Regions from separate parts of the Homo sapiens genome. Here regions 1 and 2 are each linked to region 3. Evidence: fine-mapped expression QTL. A gene starts in region 3. Each other region holds a variant in brackets. All regions are shown on one strand. Distances are between the middles of the regions.

Region 1 (7,474 bases), 33 kb after region 3:
TATTGATGATAGTTTCTGGAGAGAAATTTCCTTGTCTCTTTCCATTTACTTGCTATAGTTTCTGGAGAGAAAGTTCCTTGTCTCTTTCCATTTACTTGCTGTAGTTTCTGGAGAGAAAGTTCCTTGTCTCTTTCCATTTACTTGCTGTAGTTTCTGGAGAGAAATTTCCTTGTCTTTTTCCATTTACTTGCTATATAATTCAGACTCTGATACTTTTCTGACTGATAGGGTCACCCTTTCTTCAGCATCTTGCTCTCTGGTCTCTTTCTGTTCCTGTTCCTCTACACAATGCTGTCAGCATTATCTTTTTAAAATACAGATTTAATCATGTTCCTGCCTTGCTCTGAAACCTTATGTCTCGTCTCCCTTTTAGGTATACATTAGTGATATAAATCACTGGTATTTATGGATCACAGTGCTGAGACTTTTACAGCCATCAAGTAATTTAATTTTGATAAGAACTCTATAAAGCCAGCCTATAACTCCTATTGTCCTCCATTTTATAAACAAGAAACTGATTTAGAGAAGTTAAGCAACTTTTCTAAGGTGCTATAGTTAGTAGGTGGCAAAGTTTGAACATAATAACAGGTTTCTTTGTTAGTATGGTGCCAGTGGGGTTCCCTGTGCTTTTCTGCCCTCTCTCTACCCAGCTTTCCCCCATCTCATTCTTTAGTCTCAAGGCTCCACTTACCGTCTTCCATTTACCTTGTAACTTCTCATTGATGATGCTTACACTTTCAACCTATGGAAACTCTGCTTCTCTTTTTTAGTTCTGCTCAAGTATCATACTGAATCCCTCTACTCCACTGTCCCAGTTAACATTTTTTATTCCTCCTCCTTCTATAATTTTTTATTTTAATTTTGTTATTTGCCTTATACTATATATATTTGTGTTTATTTCTGTCTTCCTACTAGATTGTAAGTTCCTGGAAGATAAGGACTATTCTGTCTTTACAAACTGTGGGGCCAGTATCTTGCACTTACCGGACATGCAAGAAGTATGCCTTTTTGAAATCAGTTTTATTTATACAAATAGTAGAGTGAGTGAGTTTGTTTGTTTGTTTGTGACGGAGCCTCATTCTGTCAGTCACCCAGACTGGAGTGCAGTTGTGCAATCTTGGCTCACAGCAACCTCTGTCTCCCAGATTCAAGTGATTCTTATGCCTCAGCCTCCCAAGTAGCTGGGACTACAGGCATGCACCACCACACCTGGCTAATTTTTGTATTTTTATCAGAGACAGGGTTTCACCATGTTGTCCAGGCTGGTCTCAAACTCCTGACCTCAAATGATCTGCCTGCCTTGGCCTTCCAAAGTGCTGGGATTACAGGCATGAGCCAGTGCATCTGGCCTTAGAGTTTTAATGAGGATGGAATGTGGAGTCCTTTGTCCTTACAAATTTTTGTAACTAGGTTATGAAGATATTTTATTCTCCAACTGAATAATTTCATAAAATTTAGTAAAATTTTAATTTTAAAATTTAAATGAAGATTTAATTTTTTGGTTCTGTATTTTTACTTGTATCTTTTTAATTGAGAATTCTTACACTCTTAGATATATGTTAAACATACTATGAGGTTTTACAAATACTGTTGGTGACTCAAAAGGAGAATTAGTATTACAAAAATTCTAAATATTTCTGTACTTTCCCATTATTTACCCTGGTTACAAAAACTATAAACTTGTAACTTTCTAATTAATCATTGTTTTTAATTTTTTTTTAATTTAACTTTAAAAAAAGATTTGAGAGGCCAGTTGTGGTGGCTCATGCCTCTAATCCCAGCACTTTGGGAGGCTGACGTGGGGGAATCACTTGAGTCTAGAAGTTCAACACCAGCCTGGGCCACACAGCGAGACCCCTGTCTCTACAGAACATAAAAAATTAGCTGGGAGTGGTGACATGCACCTGTGGTCCCAGCTACTGGGGAGGCTGAGGTGGGAGGATCACGAGCCTGGGAGTTTGAGGCTGCAGTGTTGAACTGTGATCACACCACTGTACTCATCCTAGGCAACAGAACAAGACCCTATCTCAAAAAAAGGTTTTGAGAACTCTTTAGAAATATATACAGGACTTTTCTAATGAGAAAATTAAGGTCAGAAAATGAGATGAAACTAGGTTAGTGTTTGCACCTAAAACACATCCCATAAGATCCAAGACTGATGGTAAAATTGGGCTACAAATTTGGCTGTGCTTTTTCCATTTGGCAAAGCAAACAGGAAAACATGTTAACTTACGTGAGCAAATTGTTCATGTTATAAAATCAACTAGATAAAGTTATTTTGTGGGTGGGTCTTCACAAAGAAGGGCTACAGTATGAAATAGGTAAACGATATCAGCAGCAGCGTCTCTGTGACAAATGCATTTAGTTTAGTGAAACTGATTCATATTAGACCATTTGATGCAGGCAGGTGACATGGTGTCATTTATTAAAGGATATTCTATGAGGAGCCCAAATAAGTCAGTGAGCATTTATAATTCTGAGATCTACTGAAGAATTTTGAAATATTTAGAGCAGCATGTCCTAAGGCGCTGGAACGACTGCTTATCTTTCAGGCTAAGAGTGGAGTAGCAGTAAGTTTAAGATTATATTCTCCATCAGTAACTGAATATAGAAATCCTGTATTTGTAAGAGACATGTATTTTAAAATCATCAATGATTATTTATTTGTAAGTTTACTTTTCTATTTTTCTTGAACTTTAAAATTAACCAGGATGCTTGAGTACGTGGATCACCTTTTAGGTATCAATAGAATTGTTAGCAAATAGTGTTAGGTTAAAAACACTATGTTTTAAATTCTTTGATAAAATTGAAACGTTTACTTATAAAAATAGAAAACTGTGGTCATACTGATATAGGACTATTATCCCTCAGTTTCCAGAGTGTGGATTCTTTGGCATGTATGACAAAATTCTTCTCTTTCGCCATGACATGAACTCAGAAAACATTTTGCAGCTGATTACCTCAGCAGATGAAATACATGAAGGAGACCTAGTGGAAGTGGTTCTTTCAGGTAAGTAAGTGGCTTTTTAGAGTGATTGCCTTTTCCCCTCAAAGAGCCTAATTTTCTGTACTAAATGCTGCAATTCGATTATATTTAGTCTTTGTATTATTGTTACTTAATTTCTTTCATCTCTAATAATGGTCACCATATGATTTTTCCTTTCAGGCATGTTATATCACCATTAAGAAAGAAAAATACCTGGCAACGGTGGCTCACACCTGTAAGCCCAGCACTTTGGGAAGCTGAGGCGGGAGGATTGCTTATCTCAGGAGTTTGAGACCAGCCTGAGCAGCATACCTCGTCTCTACTAAAAATTTAAAAAAAAAAAATTAGCCAGGCATGGTCACATGCAACTGTAGTCTTAGCTACTTGGGAGGATAAGGTGGGAGGATTGCCTGATCCTGGGAGGTTGAGGCTGCAGTGGGCCATGATCACACTACTGCACTTCCGCCTGGACAACAGAGCGAGACTCGTCTCTTTAAAAAAGCAAAAGAAAGGCCTG[G/A]CGCGGTGGCTCACGCCTGTAATCCCAGCACTTTGGGAGGCCGAGGCGGGCGGATCACGAGGTCAGGAGATCAAGACCATCCTGGCTAACAAGATGAAACCCCGTCTGTACTAAAAATACAAAAAAAATTTGGCCAGGCGTGGTGGTGGGCGCCTAGTCCCAGCTACTGGGGAGGCTCAGGCAGGAGAATGGCGTGAACCTAGGAGGTGGAGCTTGCAGTGAGCCGAGATCGCACCACTGCACTCCAGCCTGGGCAACAGAGTGAGACTCTGTCTCAAAAAAAAAAAAAGGAAAAAATCAGGATAGGAAAATAAACTGAATTACTTGAATGTTACTAAGCTTAGGAAATTATTTGGTCTGAAAGAAATATACTCTTCTCTGAGTCAAAGAAATAAAACAGTTACACTGAAATTCTGTTTTTTCCCCTTCCCCCACCCCCATTTCTGTAAAGAGCATAAAAGAAGAAAATTGGGGTTTAGAAAAGAGAATCAGGAAAAAAAGAAGTAATGAAGATATGGAAGAGGAAATTACAATGCTGGTTATTTCTGTGGCTTTAAAATTAAAAATGCTCTTTCCCTTTTTGTCCCACTGGGCTTTTTTCTACCTTTCACTTTTTCCACCTCACGCATTCTTGCCATACGTTGTTTTTTAATTCCCACTATTTGCCATCTCATCCTGCAGCAATGTGGGCAAGATAATAAGGAGTGAAAAGGAAGAAAGAATGCCATAATAATGCACATAGTAGGTCTGCAGTACTTTTTGTTTGGCAAGTAGGAGAACTGATGGAAGAAAGGAAGCAAGCTGGCCAGCCATGGGTCAGAGCCCTGCTACCAAGTTCCCTTTTCTCAAATTCACCTTTGAGCCTTTTCTTGAGATCCTCTCTGTCCTTATTAGTCCCCACTCCTCTCATCTTATATTTCTGATTCTCTCATTCATCTCACTCCCTGCTACACTGATCATTCATCTTCTATACAACAACCCCAAACCATCTCTATATTTCCCAATCCTTGCCCTCCTCTTCATTCCTGAGGAGTTTCACTCCCTGTCTCACCTGGAAGTCCTGCTCACATCTCTTCCTTCTCTACTCTGGACTCCATCAGACTACTTGCAGGTTGAGGTGAGAGGAAGTTCCTTGGGTCTACTGTCCCGACGTTCACTAAGGGGAAAGGAGTTTCTTTCTCATATCCACTAGGACTGTGGAGAACAAACAGACAAGTATATCCTGGGATCCTAAATTAGGACTCAGTATCTTTTTCCACAGAAACGTTTCCATAAATTGAAGTTAAGTTCCATAGTAGTTTTTACTTTAGTGTTCTATTTCCCACTGTGTAAGTTAAGCAGTTTTTAATTGGTTAAAGTAACCTAATGTCTGTTTGTAATCTTGTCATTATGAGAAAATGCTGTTGGAGTTCCAAATAACTAACCTATGACCTACTTCTGGAGCTCAAATGATGAGAAGTAAATGGACTTGCTAAACTAGAGTTTGAAATCACAATATTAAATAATTTACTTTTATGGTCCAGTGCAACTTTCAGAGAAAAAATGATTCTGTGTACTTTGACATAAGTGAATGTGTGAGCATTCTTAATCTCATCGCAGTACAAATACAACGTGTATTGTAATACTTTTCTTTTTTAAAGCTTTAGCCACAGTAGAAGACTTCCAGATTCGTCCACATACTCTCTATGTACATTCTTACAAAGCTCCTACTTTCTGTGATTACTGTGGTGAGATGCTCTGGGGATTGGTACGTCAAGGACTGAAATGTGAAGGTGTGTGTTCTAAAATTTTTGTGGTCATTTGAAATAAGATTCCACATTTGCATTTTTTATTATCAGTGAAAAAGCAAGATGACGAGCTGTTGACTAGGGTGGTAACGAGGATTTAGAATTGGAGAGATCAGGACTCTCATTTTATCTCTGCCACCTACTTCATATTCTTGGGCAAATTACTAAACCTCTTAAGATTAATTTCTCGTAAAATACATTCTGCCCCACTGGTTTCATAAAGAGTAAACGGTTAAATCAGGTAATAGGGTTAAATATTTAGTACAAAATAATGGCTCCATAAATATTCATGTTGTTTTTTGTTTTTAAAAGTTTTCTTGGCCAGGCACGGTGGCTCACACCTGTAATCCTAGCACTTTGGGATGCCGAGGCTGGTGGATCACCTGAGGTCAGGAGTTTGAGACCAGCCTGGCCAACATGGCGAAACCCTGTCTCTACTAAAGATACAAAAACTTAGCCGGGCGTGGTGGCGGATGCCTGTAATCCCAGCTACTCGGGAGGCTGGGGCAGGAGAATCGCTTGAACCTGCCTGGGTGACGGAGGTTGCAGGGAGCCGAGATTGCACCATTGCACTCCAGCCTGGGTGAAAGAGCGAAACTCTGTCTCAAAAAAAAAAAGTTGTCTCTTACATACAACTAAATTGTCAAATTTGTTCTGAATTAGAATTGCTAGGAGTAGGACACAGGTGCACATTTCTGATGAAGAAACAGTCTTCTAAGGTGGAGGGTCAATCAACTTTTTCTGTAAAGGGACAGAGAGTAAATGTTTTAGACTTTGTTGGCCATATGGTCTCTGTCATGATTTAACTCTGCTATTACAGTATGAAACCAATCATAGACAATATGTAAACGAATAGATATGGTTGTGTTCCAATAAAACTTTATTTAGGGACATTGAAATTTGAGTTTCATAAAATTTTCATGTCACAGGAGGAATTTGGTACAGAGGCCATAGTTTGCTAACTAGTGCTTTAAGGCAGTGGTTCTCAAACTGTATTGTGCATCGTAAAACACACTTTGCTGGGCCTCATCCCCGTAGTTTCTAATTCAGTAGATCTGGGGTGGAGCCTTGTAATTTACATTTCTAACAAATTTCCAGGTGGTTGCCTTAGGGACCACACTTCAAGAACCACTGCCCTAGCTGACTTATCCTTTTTACACATTTCCTTTTCTTCTTGAATTCATTAGCTTCCACTTAGCCTGCTGTCTGGGTTCTTAATTAGGATAGGTATGGCTAACAGAAAATATGTTAAATAAAAGAAGCAGTGGTTTTTATGTATCACACTTAAATAGTAAATTTTTTTTTAAATCTTATATTTTACCTTGTAAAATATGTTTAGGCTGTGGATTAAATTACCATAAACGATGTGCCTTCAAGATTCCAAATAACTGTAGTGGAGTAAGAAAGAGACGTCTGTCAAATGTATCTTTACCAGGACCCGGCCTCTCAGTTCCAAGACCCCTACAGCCTGAATATGTAGCCCTTCCCAGTGAAGAGGTACGTATTCTAAGGTAATAGACATTTTAGTAGTAGTTATTCTCTGTGTTTCTACAGGGTGTATGACATCACTCTAGAACATAATTTATATGCTAAAGAATGGTAATGTTCCTACACTTAAGAAACATAAAATGTAGTAATGGAGACAGGACTTACCGGTAGTAATGAATTGCATTTTGTACACCTTGGGATGGTATTATGGCTTGTACCACTGCTTTAGCCTTCTAGTCAGTATCCTGGCTCCTGGTCTCCATACTTAAATCTTTTTTTTTTTTAATTTTTTTTTTAATTTTTGTTTTTTTGAGATGGAGTCTTGCTCTGTCGCCCAGGCTGGAGTGCAGTGGCACGGTCTCTGCTCACTGCAACCTCCGCCTCCTGGGTTCAAGCAATTCTCCTGCCTCAGCCTCCCAAGTAGCGGGGATTACAGATGCGTGCCACTACACCCAGCTGATTTTTGTATGTTTAGTAGAGATGAGGTTTCACCATGTTGGACAGGCTGGTCTTGAATTCCTGACCTCGTGATCTGCCCGCCTCGGCCTCCCAAAGTTCTGGGATCGCAGGCATGAGGCACTGCTATCTGCAGATCTGTATACAGATGAGACAGTTGAGACACAGAGCAGCTAAGTGACTTGTGTGAAGTCAGAGAGCAAATTAGTAAGAGATAGTGGAATTAAACCCAGATCTCAT
Region 2 (7,474 bases), 24 kb after region 3:
CATATCCAAAAAATTCTGGGTTCAGGTTAATGATGAAAGTTAATAAATTCAAGTCCATGTTGAGTCATTTTCTAATTGACTCAGCTATCGTCCTTATGTCTGTATTTAGAAACAGAATCATTGAGCTGCTTCTCTCCAATTAAATATTTTCCTAAAATTGGTGTTAATATTAGATTTGTTTCTGTGTAATTTATTAGTGCTAAGTTAGTTGCTCAATAGTCAACACTTCTTTTTTTTTTTTTTTTTTTTAGTAAGTACCTGTTAAGTACAAAGTGCTTGGGGATTCAGGAGGAACATGAAAAGAGAATATTCTTTTCCTCATGGAGCTTGTTTACTATGATCGAGTTTATGTTTAAAAAGACTTGTGAAGATTTATTTGGCATCAAATTTTAAAATGACGTTGGTATTCAGTGTCACAAATGCATTTGAAGAAACTTGTGATGCTGATTTTTAAAATGACGTTGGTATTCAATGTCTCAAATGCATTTGAAGAAACTTGTGATGCTGATAATATTCTGTATCTTGACCTGAGTGGTGGTTATGTGGGTTGTGTGTATGTTTATGAAGCTATCAAGCTTCTAATTAAGATTAGTGCATTTATTATATATCAAGTACATTTTAAAAGTAAATGTATGTTAAACTTCGATCGTTTCCCATTGCATTTAGAATAAAACCTTCATTCTTCTTTTTAAAAAAGTACATACTGGCTGGGCACGGCAGCTCATACCTGTAATCTCAGTGATGTAGGATTTTTCTTGACCTCTTCATCGGACTTGGGACGGGGTACCCTGTTTACTCAGTCCGCCACACTCAACCTCTTTTGGGAGGGAACATGTGAGCAAACGAGTGCAGGATCTGGCTAGCTGCCTTGAGTGATGGCAGGAGCAGACTTCATACCTGTGGGGCCCTTCAACCTAAGGGCCCCACAGCGGCACTTAGGTTGTGGTGCCTGAAACCCCCCAGAGGCCCCAGAAGATATAATACTCTCTTAGGTCTGCCATCCATGGACAGCAGCGTGTTATCAGCTCAGTGGGCGCCTTGCCTCATCGTGTGGGGTGGCTGCCCTCCACCAGCAAGGGGAAAGGGCCTATGCAACAGCCTTTTTTGGGGTACTGGCACTTGTTGGGTCTCCAGTGCTTGTCTGGCATCTAAGAACAATGAGATCCCCCAGACACTTGAAGGATGGTGAAGGTGGTAAGTGATGGGAAATGGCTCTCAGCAGAGTGGGATGTGGGAGAGGGGACGGGACGGGCAGGTAATCTTCTCCTGAGGTCCAGCGGCTCTTCCCGATAGTCAGGCCATCCTCTGAAGTCCAGCTGTCCCTCCAATGTCAAGTCACCTCTCTCCAGTCAAGCTGCTTCTCTCTCTCTACTGGCTGAGTCTGGGGTCTTTATAGGCACAGGACAGGGGTTGGGCCGTGGGGCCGGCCGTAGGTAGTTTTGGAAAAGGCAACATTCGATTGGTAAAAAGACATTTAGAAAGAACCAATCAGGAGAGAGCAGGCAAACAGAGATAGAAGTTCTCACTTTGGGCAATGGGTTTCAGGCTTTTCATCTTGAAGGTGGGGTTTCGCCAGGACCCACCCCTGTCTGCCTAGTATTTCTCTGCCTTCTGTCTCTATCATCAGCACTTGGGGAGGCTTGAGGCAGAATGATTGCTTGAGTTCAGGAGATGGAGACCAGCCTGGGCAATATGGTGAGACTGTGTCTAAAAAAAAAAATTAAAAGTTCATAGTGATAAATTATTCATTCAGATAATGTTAAATTCAGAAACCATTGTTAAAGTGCAAAAATTATGTTTGACCAAGTGAAATAACTTGGAAGCTTCCTACCTTGCCTGACATTTTACTGACAGCATTTTAACGACATGAACTTGAAACGGTTCACCTTAAATTACTTTCAAAATAAGTGTTGCTTAAAATAATTTTGTTTGCAACTATTGGAACCTTTTACTTAAAAATGTTAAGTAATGCTGTAAAAAATAACGTCTAAAATGGTTATAGAAAGATTATTTTTTAAAATTATCGAAGTCATCTTTAATACAAAAGCAAAGAATGAAGTGAGCAGAGTGCATGAGGGTGGAAATTTAATAACTGATATTCTGTTGCATTCCCATATGGACTGGGAAAATACTTCATTTTGCACAGTCAAGAGGGGTCATCGGCACAGTTTGTAGTAAGCAAATCCAGAAAAGCTCGGGGGATGGGGGAACAGTTGGAAAGAGGCCAAATTAAAGGGCCATTTTGCTTCTACCATGCTGTATCATTAGTTATTTCTTTAATTTCCTCTTTCTTTTAATCAAGGATGAGGTAGGCCAGGTAAGGAATTATGGACTTGTCTGGTTTTCAAAAGGTTGCCAACTTCTTCCACATTTCCTAGCCTCTTTATTCTCTTGACTCTTTTATTCCCTAAAGCAGGATTTCTCAGCTTCAGCACTATTGACATTTTGGGTGGGATAATTCTTGTGGGGGCTGCCCTCTGTGTTCTACAGTGCTCTACCCACTGAATGCCACTAGCTCAAGTTGTGAAAACCAAAGATGTCTCAGGACATTGTCATATAGCTTCTGTGGGCAAAATCATCTCAGCTGAGGATCATTGCCCTAGAGGAATAAACTAAATAATAGCCAGTGACAATTCCTGACAATTACTTAAACATGTCATCACCTCTGCTGCTTTTCTGAACTTCTTCCCTCTCAGGAGAATAGAATGTTTAGAAGGGATATATATACACCATTTTACTGGGCAAGAATTGTATTTTGAAGAATATAGAGACAACAGCATTAGTACAGGTTTCTGCCCCCGCCCCTTTTGACTCTGTGAGCATAGCAGAGTCACAAATGTAATTAAGGGCCAGGAAAGGTGACTCGTGCCTATAATCTCAGCACTTTGGGAGGCTGAGGCTAAAGGATTGCTTGAGCCCAGGAGTTTGAGGTTGCAGTGAGCAGTGATCAAGCCACTACATTGTGGGCAACAGAGGGAGACCCCCACTCAAAAAAAAAAAATGTAATCCAGAATTGGTTTTAATTAGTTTGCCAAAATATTTTCTCCTTTTCAAATTATACAACTGAAAGAAAAAAAAAAGGCTCTTCTCCTTTGTTCTTTGTTCTCCTGGAGTCTGATTTAGAACAAGAAGCTATTATCTTAAAAGCTCTCTTAGGTTTCACTGCTGTCAAATCATTTTGAGAAATTCTACATATATACTTTGGAATATAAAGTATTTTTGTTTATGGTTTTTTGATATGTTGTTCAGGACTTATTAAAGGTCTCCACATAATGAA[G/A]ATCATTCTGAGGAGTAATTGGATTTGGAGTTTTAAAGATGATCAATCCATTAAAAATAAGCAAAAATATGAATTCCTAATTTACAGAAAAGAAAATACAGATTCACTTAAGCATGTGAAAAATGTTCAACTTCTTGTAATAAAAAAAGAAATGCAAATTAAAACTACAAAAATACCATTTTTCATCTAAAGTCAACAAGTTTGATAATACACTATAAAAACGTGGCAAAACAAGTACATACTCAATATATTACTTGCAGAAGTATAAATTGGTTTGACCGCCATAAAGAGCAATTTGGCAGTATCTACAAATTTCAAATATGCGTTTTCTTTGAGCCAGCAAATCTCCTAGAAAGTTATCTCATATTCAGACTCAAAAAGTGGGAAAAGATATGTACATAGGATTACTCATTGGGTATTGCTCATACTCACAAGAGATTGGAATAGCTAAGGTGTATTTAGCTTATGACGAGTTCTAATCTCTTTTATTTCTATTTTTCTGGATAAATAATAGTTGTACATATTTATGAGGTACATGTGATATTTTGATACAAGCATACAATGCATAATGATCAAATGAGGGTAATTGGGATATCCATCACCTTAAATATTTATCATTTCTTTGTGTTAGGAACAGTCCAATTCTACTCTTCTAGTTATTTTGAAATATACAATAAATTGTTGTTAACTGTAGTCTACCTATCATGCTACCAAACACTGGATCTTATTTTTTCTATCTAACTGTAGTTTTGTAATCATTAACCAACCCTTTTATTCCCCCCACCCACTACCCTTCAGAGCCTCTGGTAGTCATCATTCTACTCTCTATCTCCATGAGGTCATTTTTTTTTTAAATTTTTCACATACAAGTGAGAACATGCAATACTTGTCTTTCTGTGCCTGGCTTATTTCACCAACTGAAATGTTATTCTCTACTTCTGTCCATGTTGTTGCAAATTATAGGATTTCATTCTTTTTATGGCTGAATAATATTCCACCATGTATGTGTATCACATTTTCTGTATCCATTTATCCATTGATGGACACTTAGGTTGATTCCCTGTTGTGGCTATTGTGAATTTTGCTGCAGTAACCATGGGATCGCGGATATCTTTTTGATATCTTGGTTTCTTTCGGGTAGATACCCTGTAGCGAGATTGCTGGATCCTGTGGTGGTTTTATTTTTGGCAACCTCCGTGCTGTTTTTCATAGTGACTGTACTGATTTACATTCCCACCAATAGTGTATAAGCATTCCCCTTTCTTTGCATCCTCACCAACATCTTTAATTTTTTGTCTTTTTGATAAAAGCCATTTTGAGATGAGATGATATCTCATTGTGGTTTTGATTTGCATTTCTCTGATGATTAGTGATGTTGAGTATCTTTTCATATACCAATCGGGCATTTGTATGTCTTCTTTTGAGAAATGTATTATTTAGATCTTTTGCTTATTTTTTAATTGGATTTTCTTTTTTTGTTGTTGTTGAGTCATTTGAGCTCCTTATATATTCTGGTTATTAACCCCTTGTCAGTTGAATAGTTTGCAAATATTTTCTCCCATTCTGTAGGTTGTCACTTCACTTGTTAATTATTTCCTTGCAGAAGCTTGTGTGTGTGTGTGTGTGTGTGTGTGTGTGTGTGTGTGTGTGTGTGTGTATTTTAGTAGAGGTGGGGTTTCACCATGTTGACCAGGCTAGTCTCGAACTCCTGAGCTCAGGCAGTCCACTACCTTGGCCTCCCAGAGTGCTAGGATTATCAGTGTGAGTCACTGTGCCCGACTTTTTAGCTTGATGTGACCCCCTTTGTCCATTTTTATTTTGGCTACCTGTGCTTTTCAGGTCTTACTCAAGGAGTCTTTGCCCAGGCTAATGTCCTGGAGTGTTTCCCCATTGTTTTCTTCTAGAATATGAGGATGGTTCAGCATACGCAAATCATTAAACATAATATGTCACGTCAACAGAGTGAAGACCAAAACCCATATGGTCATCTCAATAGATGCCAAAAAAACATTCAGTAAAATTCAACACAATGAAAACTTCGTGATAAAAACTGTCAACAAACTAGGTATAGAAGGAACATACCTCAAGACAGTAAGGGCCATATATGACAGACATGCAGCTGGTATACTGAATGGGAAAAAACTGAAAGCCTTTCCTCTAAGATCTGAAACAAGACAAGGATGCCCACTTTCACAACTTTTGTTCAACATAATACTGGAAGTCTTAAGTAGAGCAATTAGACAAGAGAAAGAAATAGATGGTATCCAAATTGGAAAGGAAGATGTCAGATTATCCTTTTTTGCAGACGATATGATCTTCTATTTAGAAAAACCTAAAGACTCTGCCAAAAAACCATTAGAACTGATAAATGAATTAAGTAAAGATGTAGGATACAAAATCAACATACAGAAATCAGTAGCATTTCTATATGCCAACAGTGAACAATCTGGAATAGAAACCAAGAAAATTATCCCATTTACAATAGCTATAAATAAAATAAAATACCTAGGAATAAGCTTAACCAAAGAAGTGAAAGATCTCTACAATGAAAACTATAAAACATTGATGAAAAAAATTGAAAAGGACACTGAGTTCTTTGTATATATATATTAACGTATTCTCATGATAATTTTATGAAGTAGGCAAGTAGGCACTATTTTACAGATGGAAAAACTGAGGTTAAGTAACTTGGTTAAGATTATATACTTAGATGGGACTGGTGAAAGAAAACTATACATCTGTTTTTAAAAAAAAAAATAACTTTGTTAATGGAATGATCTCTATATTGCTAAGTGAAAAAAAGAGCAAGCTGCAGAACAGTGTTTATAGTGTGCTGCCATTTGTGTAAAATGAAGGAAAGATACATTCATGTGTATTTGGTATGTAAAATATTTTCAGAAGGATTCTGAGAAAACTGGCAACACTGTTGACTACAGGACGGTTAATGAGGCAGCTAGGGCATGGGTGTGCCGTCTACTCTTTTTTGCCTTTTGAACTTTGAATAATTGCCTATTCAAAAATAAATAAAATTATATTTTAAAAGAGTACATATTATATCTGAAAGTATAAAGTAAATATCCATGAGTCTATATTGATATATATAAATGTTGTGAATAAATAAGTGGGGGAAAATAGATAAATCTCCCATTTGGAAGATTTTCAAATAATTTATGTAGATACTCCACCTTCAAGGAAAGGAAACAAACAAACCTTTCCACTTCTTAAGTGCTCTGCTCATAATGACTTACTTCCAAAGAGTATGTATAGAAAAGGGTGGGGGGAGAGTAGTTTTGCAGTGGAGAAACCTGACAAACACTACCTCAACCAACATCAGTGGTGATGTCATGTTGACAGTAGGTGCCCTTGGTAGAGTGCAATGAGAATGGCACTTTACCTCTGTGGTCTGCCTCCCCAAAACCCATTACCCCAGTAATAATGAAAAGAACATCAGACAAATTCCAGTAGAAAGGCCTCCTGCAATATACCTGACCAGAACTTCTCAAAACAGCCAAGATTGTTAAAATCCAGCAAAGTCTGAGAAACTAACCCAGCCCAAAAGGGGCCTATGGGGACATAACAGTTAAAGGTGATGTGGTATGGATGGGATTCTTAAACAGAAAAAGGGTATTAGGTAAAAATAAGGAAATCTGAATAAAGTATGAGCCTTAGTTAATGATAATGTATGGATATTGGGTTATTAATTGTAATAAATATAGCATGTAACTAATGTACAATGTTAATAATAGGGGAAACTGGGTATGGGGTAGTATACAGGAACTCTGTACTATTTATTGTCTACATTTTCTATAAATTTTAAACTATTTTTAAAAATAGATTATTTTTAAAGAGTATATACAATACATACATTGAATAATATTTTAAAAGTAAATTTAAAATTCAGGTGTTCGCCGCCTATTCCTCAGGAGCTTAACCATAAACCTGAAATGATAGCCTAAGCATCCTTTGTTTTAAGCTCTACAGGTGGTTCTGATGTGTGGCCAGAATTAAGACATTGTTTAGAGATCCACTCCTGCGTGAAAACCTATTTTCTGAATTTTTCAAAATCAGGAACAGTAAATCCTTGTATATTGAATTCATTAACAGTTTGGTTTTTGTTTGTTCTGTATAATTCTTCATAATGAATGTGTGCTCATTATGAATGAGGGGTGTATTTCTTTTTAGGTGTATATCTTTAAT
Region 3 (7,474 bases):
CCGGAGTAGCTGGGATTACAGGCGCGTGCCACAACGTCCAGCTAATCTTTTTTTTTTTTTTTTTCGTATTTTTAGTAGAGACAGGGTTTGCCATGTTGGCCAGGCTGGTCTTGAACTCCTGACCTCAAGTGATCTGCCCACCTTGGCCTCCCAAAGTGCTGGAATTATAGGCATAAGCCACCACACCTTGCCTGAATATAAACTTTTAAGAACTGCATATAAAATCCTAGGTGAAACATATGCAGTAACCACTCCCTTTAGTTACCAGATTTTCCTAATCTTTTTAGTCAAGCCATCCTTATCACACCTCTCTTTGATTATATACTATGTTGTAAATATATATACAGACATATATTTACAGATACCATGCAAGAAACATGATGGTATGAAATTGATGGGACTTGATCACCAATTAGATTTGGAGAACAAGGGAAAGGAGTTTAGGCTGACCAAGTAGTTTCTGTCTTCAATGACTAGATGGTGGCACTATGCACTAAGACTGGAAATATAGGAAATATATATGGAGATATATGAACATAGTAATATAACCAAGTGTAAAATTATATAAAGCTAAATATAAGTGCAAATAAAGGAAAGAGAGGAGTTATATGGAATACAGAAAGTTACATTAAAAACGAATGAATGTGCCTGGCCCAGAGCTGGTGTTCAATAAGCAATAGATATTATTAATAACCTTTATACCCAAGCAGAAGAATTTGGACGTGGTAAGGTAGGTGATAAGGAATGACTGCAGAGTTTATCATGTGGTACTTTAGGACTACTAGACTAACTACTATCATCAAGACATATTGAAAAAATTCTCTGATTTAATCAACATTTATTGAGCACTATGCTAAATGATGAATAAATTTAAAAAACGGCCGGGTACAGTGGCTCACGCTTGTAATCCCAGCACTTTGGGAGACTGAGGCTGGTGAATCACTTGAGGACAGGAGTTGGAGACCAGCCTGGACAACATAGTGAAACCCTGTCTCTACTAATAAATAAAATAAATAAATAAATAAATAAAAGATCTGGTCTTCTTCAAGTTCAGAAAAGGGAAGGGCAGATAGCGATCCCAGGAGGATGTGATAAACACTCAGTCCACAATAAAATGTGATGAGCCACATGAGAATTATCTCTCAAGGGCTATCAGAACACAGAACAATTATTGATAGCCTGCAAATCAGACAAGACAGTTCCAAGGATATAACAGTTTGAGCTAGTCTAGGACACCAACTTAAAGTCTGTTGTGGTAATCCAGATGTGAGATATGGACTAGGATAACGGCAGTGGAAACTGAGACAGGACATTTTGAGAACTATATCATCACGTATGTCTCTGCTGATAAAGAAATAGATCCTAAAGCATTTTCTCCCATAACTATTTTACTAACTCTATATTGATACCCAAATGCTTTATTGAATTTTTCAGCTGTGTTTCAAGGTCATGGAAAAAGACACAATCACAAAATAATTTTCCAGTGACCACATTCTATAAATTAAAACCAGCTGCAGTTTTAAAATGATGACAATTTCCTCTAGCTGGAAATTGTCATCAATTTCCCTAGTGAAAAAATTCACTGATTTAATCAACATTTATTGAGCACTGTGCTAAACGATGAATAAATAAAAATAAGGGCCATGCGCAGTGGCTCATGCCTGTAATCCCAGCACTTTGGGAGACTGCGGCGGGCAGATCATTTTTTCCCCCTGCATTTAGGTTTCTAAATCAGATGTCTCTGTTATCTCAAGTCACAAGAGTGTTGACTTTCTTTGCTTGCATTAGGTAACATATTTGAATGGCTATGTTGTGTGTCATTAAGTACAAGGAGCCCAATAATGCGGGACAAGCTCTCCAACTGCAGCCATAGAAGAGCAATATTGTAAGCTCGTTTTCATAAAACACCAGCAAGAAGAAAAATCCTTTCCATTTTGAGCATTCAGATTATATTTTCTCTCAAGGATTAAAACATTTCACATGGCAATACACTTATTTATTAAATTCAATCTTTATCTCTGTAATGCTCAGGAATGGAACACCTTGAGGAAACTGTAGTTCATGTTAAGCAAAAAATTAGATACAAAGATAGTTCTTTGATCAAATGTGCTGAAAGATTTACCCAAAGTGGAGGAGACCGCTTTATTTTTAAAAAGAGAAGCAGAACAGTGGAAATAAAATGAAATATATACATTACATATCTCTGTTTTCACACATGCACACAAATACTTAAATCTCTGTATAACAGCAGTTTGAATCGTCTGGAAAAGTTACTTCTAGGAAGAGTAACTTCTGTCACTTTAAGTACTACAGCAGAAAATGGAAGTTAATAGTGAGATAAGACTGGCTGTAAACTGCTCCAATGAGGTCCTGGGAATCTTGCTCAGAGGCAAAATTTGGGGCTGGACTAAAACGTCTGTTGGGAAGTGAAAGGAAGAAAAGGGCAAAGTTAAGCAAGAGAGTCCTTTAAAAAGAAGGCAAACTTGAGTAAATCTACTTTCAATTTTAAAGTAAAAGAATAGCTGAATAGGACTCTAATAACAAAAATATAGTAAGATTGAATTAGATACTGCTGGATGTAAGACATTTAGCAACTTCCAATTCCTGAGAATGTTTCAGAAATCTTTTTTTAAATAGATTTTTAAATAAAGTAATCAAGGTTTTACACAATCTTACCTGCCTTATGTTTAATATAAATTATCTTAATATTTTCATTTCTTAACTTTAAATCCGAGGACATCCATTAAGAGTGATGATTTTGTATCAAAAGTAGGGGCTAATTTATGTTTATTTTTCTTTCTATTCTTGAAAACTGCCCTCTTGGCTGGGCGCGGTGTCTCACGCCTGTAATCCCAACGATTTGGAGGGCCGAGGCGGGCGGATCTCTTGAGGTCAGGAGACCAGCCTGGGTAACACAGCAAGAGACCTCGTCTCTACAAAAACTAACTTAAAAGTTAGTGGGGCGTGGTGGCACACGCCTGTAGTCCCAGCTGCTTGGGAGGCTGACGCAGGATAATCACTTGAGCCCAGCAGCTCCAGGCTGCAGTGAGCTATGATCGTGTCACTGCACTTCAGCCTGGATGACAGAGTAAAACCTTTTCTAGAGAGAAAGAAGAAAGAGAGAAAGGGGAAAAGAAAGAAAAAGAGAGAAGAAAGAAAACTGCCCTCTTGATTGTAGTCCCTCTGATTGTTTCAATATATTTAAGTACTTTTGGGATAAAATGTTGACATAAGGAGAATCATGTGGCTTCTGTGACAATGCCTGTCAGCTTCTCAGGCCTTTCTCTCACATAAGACATCGAAAATTTATGCACAGTGTATTTTCCCTCTAGATCCTTATGCTGCTGACTCCCACTCCCGCCCCACTCACCCGACACGGTCATACTTTGTTTTGGAGCAAAACAAATGTTAACATTGTGTTTCCAGACACCTGGAAGCCCAGGTTTGGTGATTCTGGACTGCACTCCACTTTGGTGGTAGGGTCACATTCGCGTTTAAAGGCCGACGGGGAGGAAACACCGAGCACCGGGAAAACCCCTGCAGTCACCGGAACGTCGGGCTTGGGACGTGCCGGTTTGGGCGCCGAGCTGCGGTGCCGGCGGCCACCCCGGGGGCAGGCAGCAGGGAGGAGCATGCGGGAGGGCTGTGACATCTCAGGGTGGAAGCAGCTCTCTGCTCTGGACGCCTTACAAGTCCCCCGTTCCAACTATCACCTCTGGCCCATTGTCGCCACCGCCTCCCTCAAGAGTGCACGGCAGTAGAGGAAAAGACAGTACCGTCGGCAACAGCGCGATCAAGTACCGCGTGTAACTGATAGACACGCTCGCGACTCCCGCGGCGCCCCTGCCCCGTGCCCCCGCGCTCACGAAGACGCCCGGAACTCGAGGGTGCGGAGCCAGCCCGACTGTACCCGGCGCTCCCGGCGCCCCTTCGCGGGGCAGAGACAACCCCGACCTCCCGCCGCGGCCACCTCCCGGCGGGCGCGGGCCGAGGAACTACAGCTCCCGGCAGGCCCCGCGCTGGCCGCGCGCCCCCGCCCCCCGCGCGCCCCGGCCCCCCGCCCTCCGGCCCCAGGACGGGACGGGGAGGGAGGGAGGAAGGGGCGCCGGAGGCGGGCGGGATCCTGCGAGGCGCGTGAAGCCTCGCTGGCGCCTCGTCCGGTACTCAGACGCTGGCGGGCGCAGTTTCTCACGACGGGCCGAGCCTGCCACTGTAAGTAGTCGCCTCGGGGAGCGCTGAACAGACACCGAAAAAGTTCGCGCCGCCGCCGCCGCCGCTTTGTTCTCCCGGCCCGTCGGGCTGAGGCGGCGGCGGCCCCTCCCCCATCCCCCAAACCCCCAACCCCCCAACTGCACGCGGCGGCGGCGGCGACAGGACTCGGACCCCGCGCCGGGCTGGGCGGTGTCAGCCGCGCTGGGCGGGAAGTTGGGGGAGCGCGCGGCGGGAGGTGGGCGGCTGAGGGGGAGCGGGGGCGCCGCCGCAGCCGCCAGAGGGGCCAAGTTCCGGCGTCCGCGCGGAGGGCAACTTGGGTTCGCGCTCCGCTGGAGACCACCGCGCCCGGCCCATCGGAGGCGATCCGTTCCCGGGTCTCCCAAACTAGTTCCCGAAGCCAGACCCGCGGCGCTCGCAGTGCCGAATTTTGGACCAGCTTTTTCGTTTCATTTCCTCACTTTGCGTTGTAGTCGTCTCAAAGGGGTGAGTAAATGGTGCTTGGAGAATGTAAGCCCCTCGCCCCAGTATCCCGACTGCGTTTGGATTTGCTAGTTGCAGCATTGTTCCGAGTTGCTCCCTCCTGGGAGGTTTTCCTTAAGCTGAAACACTGAGGAGTGCCACTGTTTCTTTGAGCAGTGAAAATAACCATATACTACTGTATTGCCGGTTGGGTATTTTATTTCAGGTGAACGCAGTCAGAGGCATAGGCCTTGCCGTCTGCAGGCACACATACGATTCAAGCGACAAGTGTGTGCGCGCGACCTGCCGACTTTTCCACACACAGATTGATGGCATGGACGTAACTGTGTCTTCAATCACACCCATCCCCACAGGAAATAAGACTATCGGTGTCATCTTTGATTAGGAAGGATAAGTTACACCCTGAACTGCTGCTTGGTGCGACACAGCTTTTATGAGACATAGCCACAAATGGAACAAGAACTTTTAAATGCCTTAATTTGTATCCTAGAAAATGTTATTTTATTCCTCTGAAACTTTTTTTTTACCCTTCTACTTAATGTCGTCGTTCTTACATTTTTAGCGATTTTCATTTTCCTTAGCTTTGCTGCAGAAGGCGTCCATAAAGTTCCCCCGACTGAGATCTAGGCCAGTTTTTCCTTGTCAACGAACCCTTGCTTCCTTCCCTGTTAGATTCCGAGTTAAGATCAAGCATGGACATTCAGCCAAGAAGTTAGAAGATTTTCTAAAAGTAGGATTTGAAACGTGTCACACAGAAACCGTGGAAGGTTTTTCTTCAGTAGGTAGTAATACAGTTGTGGTGGGCCTGAGTGCATGAGCTTGGAGTACTCCTTGACGAGCCAGGTTCCATCCTCGGTTCTATAATTTAGTATATAGCATTTCACATTTCAGGGTGACTCAGGTTCTGTAATTTAGTATATAGCGTTTCACATTAAGAATGTTGACTGATGTGTATCTTAAAACTAATTTTTTAAGCATCCTAGATAATGGTAAGTCTTTTAGAGAAAATTTTAAGCTTTCAGTTTCATCAGATAGCCACTTTAAAATAGAAATTTCTTTCTGTTCGTGGATTTAAACACTGCCACACACACAGAACTTCATAAATAAAACTTTCTGATATTACATTTTTTTAAATTACGAATTGAAAACACCACATACAGAAAAATATGAATAGGTGGTCATTTAAGTGCAGTTTTCTTAAGGGACATTTTGTTCTCATTTTTTTAAAAGACTCTAAAGTTGAAAATACTACAGTGGAGTTAATTGTTCGTTTTTAAAAGAAACTGCTTGTACAGAGCTTGATATATAAGGAAATTCTTTGCTAGTACAAGTTTTAATTTGATATAATGCTGCTTATAATTCACAATCTTCTGTGATGATTGTACTTTGAGTCTCGCTGATTATGTAATTCAGATCGAACTTGCTATATATATATATGTATCTCTTTGAGTAGCCCTCTCAGGAAAAACTTGAGATAATGTGCTTATGAGATATTTTCATTTTAATGTAGGAAAAAAAATTTTTCCATTTCTGTGGTTAGTTTATTGTGGCAGTATGTGAGAAATTGCTCATTGGCTGCTAACCAATCAGATTTCTTAGCTACTACTGGTGCAGAGACTAACATCTGTCAAGCTCAACATGGATTCATATTGCATTGCCAGACTGGCAGTCCATAATCTTATTACTGGATAAACTTTTCAGTTCCTGAGCAGAGCAGATATGGTGTGCTCTCTCAGTACTCTCTGACAGTGGAAGGACTGAGATTCAACTGTCACTGGTCCAGATGAGCAGAATTTTAGAGGAAACAATTTAGCAAATGCTAAGCTCTTAGGAAAAGTATGTTAATCTAAAGTAATAGGTATTTTTGAAAATATATAAATCATTGTCGGGATTGCTACAAGATATGATTTTTTTAAAAACCAACGACGTAGACACTTGAGTTTTTAAATACAACATACAATATAAAAGCAAGAACAATTACTAAGCAAAGTCAAACCTATGTCAAAACATGGACATGGACTTTAGGACGCTGGTCAGAATTGCATTGAAAAAGGCCACATACTTTTACGTGGTAAAAGAATACTAATATTAATACATGTCAAGAGGCGTGGACACAACCCTCCACGTCATTAGCATTTCTAGTACACAAAACTTAAGTTGAACCTGGAAAACTCTTTACTGGGAGGAATTCATGTTATAATAAATATTGTTATTCCAATAGGAAAAGCATTTTATCTCTTCACTTTAGCCTTTGCTGAGTATTGTACAAAAAGAATGATGCTGCACTAAATAATGAACTTCTTTTTGAAGAATTTAATAACTAGATGCATTTTGCCTTCCTGGAATCCTTTTGTCTGTCTCTTTGCATCGTTGACTCTTGCTTATCCAGAGATCTCAGCTTAAATATTTCCTTAAAGGTACCTTTCCTGAGATTCCAGCTGGAATTGAGTCCCCTTAGTATACTCTGCCATATCACCTCTTGCAGTTTATAATTACCCAGCTGTTTGTATGAATGTTATGTCTGTGTCTCACATCACACTTTGAATTTCAGAGAGAGCAGTGGCCATGTCTGTTTCGGTCACTGCTCTATAACTCCAGTGTCTCTCATAACAGTCTGGGAAATAATAAGTACTAATTAAGTATTTGTTAAGTGGAAATACTGCTGTTAGAGCTTCTCCTAATTAGAGTGTTAAAAATGAGATAATGTGTGCATGGGGGAAGGGGAAGGAGAGGGAGAGGAAGTAGATAAACTTGTGATATTACCGTGAGATAATCCTCAAGT

Evidence for each region. PIP is the estimated chance that this variant, and not a neighbour inherited with it, causes the effect. A credible set is the group of variants that fine-mapping cannot tell apart.
Region 1: its variant is the best candidate, but not a certain one, in a credible set for the expression of PRKD3 in spleen (GTEx, PIP 0.75).
Region 2: its variant is the best candidate, but not a certain one, in a credible set for the expression of PRKD3 in whole blood (INTERVAL, PIP 0.89).

The regions. Positions count from the first base shown.
Region 1 is chr2:37,288,669-37,296,142 of GRCh38, reverse strand. PRKD3 (protein kinase D3) reads left to right here. Exons shown (of 19, transcript NM_005813.6): 3 at 2,872-3,010; 4 at 5,144-5,275; 5 at 6,630-6,787. Among named protein-coding and RNA genes, the nearest start is that of PRKD3, 32 kb to the left of the region's middle. The variant G/A (reference allele first, on the strand shown) is at 3,504.
Region 2 is chr2:37,296,972-37,304,445 of GRCh38, reverse strand. The region is part of intron 2 of PRKD3 (protein kinase D3); the gene reads left to right. Among named protein-coding and RNA genes, the nearest start is that of PRKD3, 24 kb to the left of the region's middle. The variant G/A (reference allele first, on the strand shown) is at 3,278.
Region 3 is chr2:37,321,419-37,328,892 of GRCh38, reverse strand. It overlaps PRKD3 (protein kinase D3), which reads left to right and starts at 4,060. Exons shown (of 19, transcript NM_005813.6): 1 at 4,060-4,212. PRKD3-DT (PRKD3 divergent transcript) reads right to left here and starts at 3,812. Exons shown (of 2, transcript NR_183394.1): 1 at 3,371-3,812; 2 at 2,129-2,416. RefSeq lists a silencer at 3,700-4,329 and an enhancer at 4,970-5,049.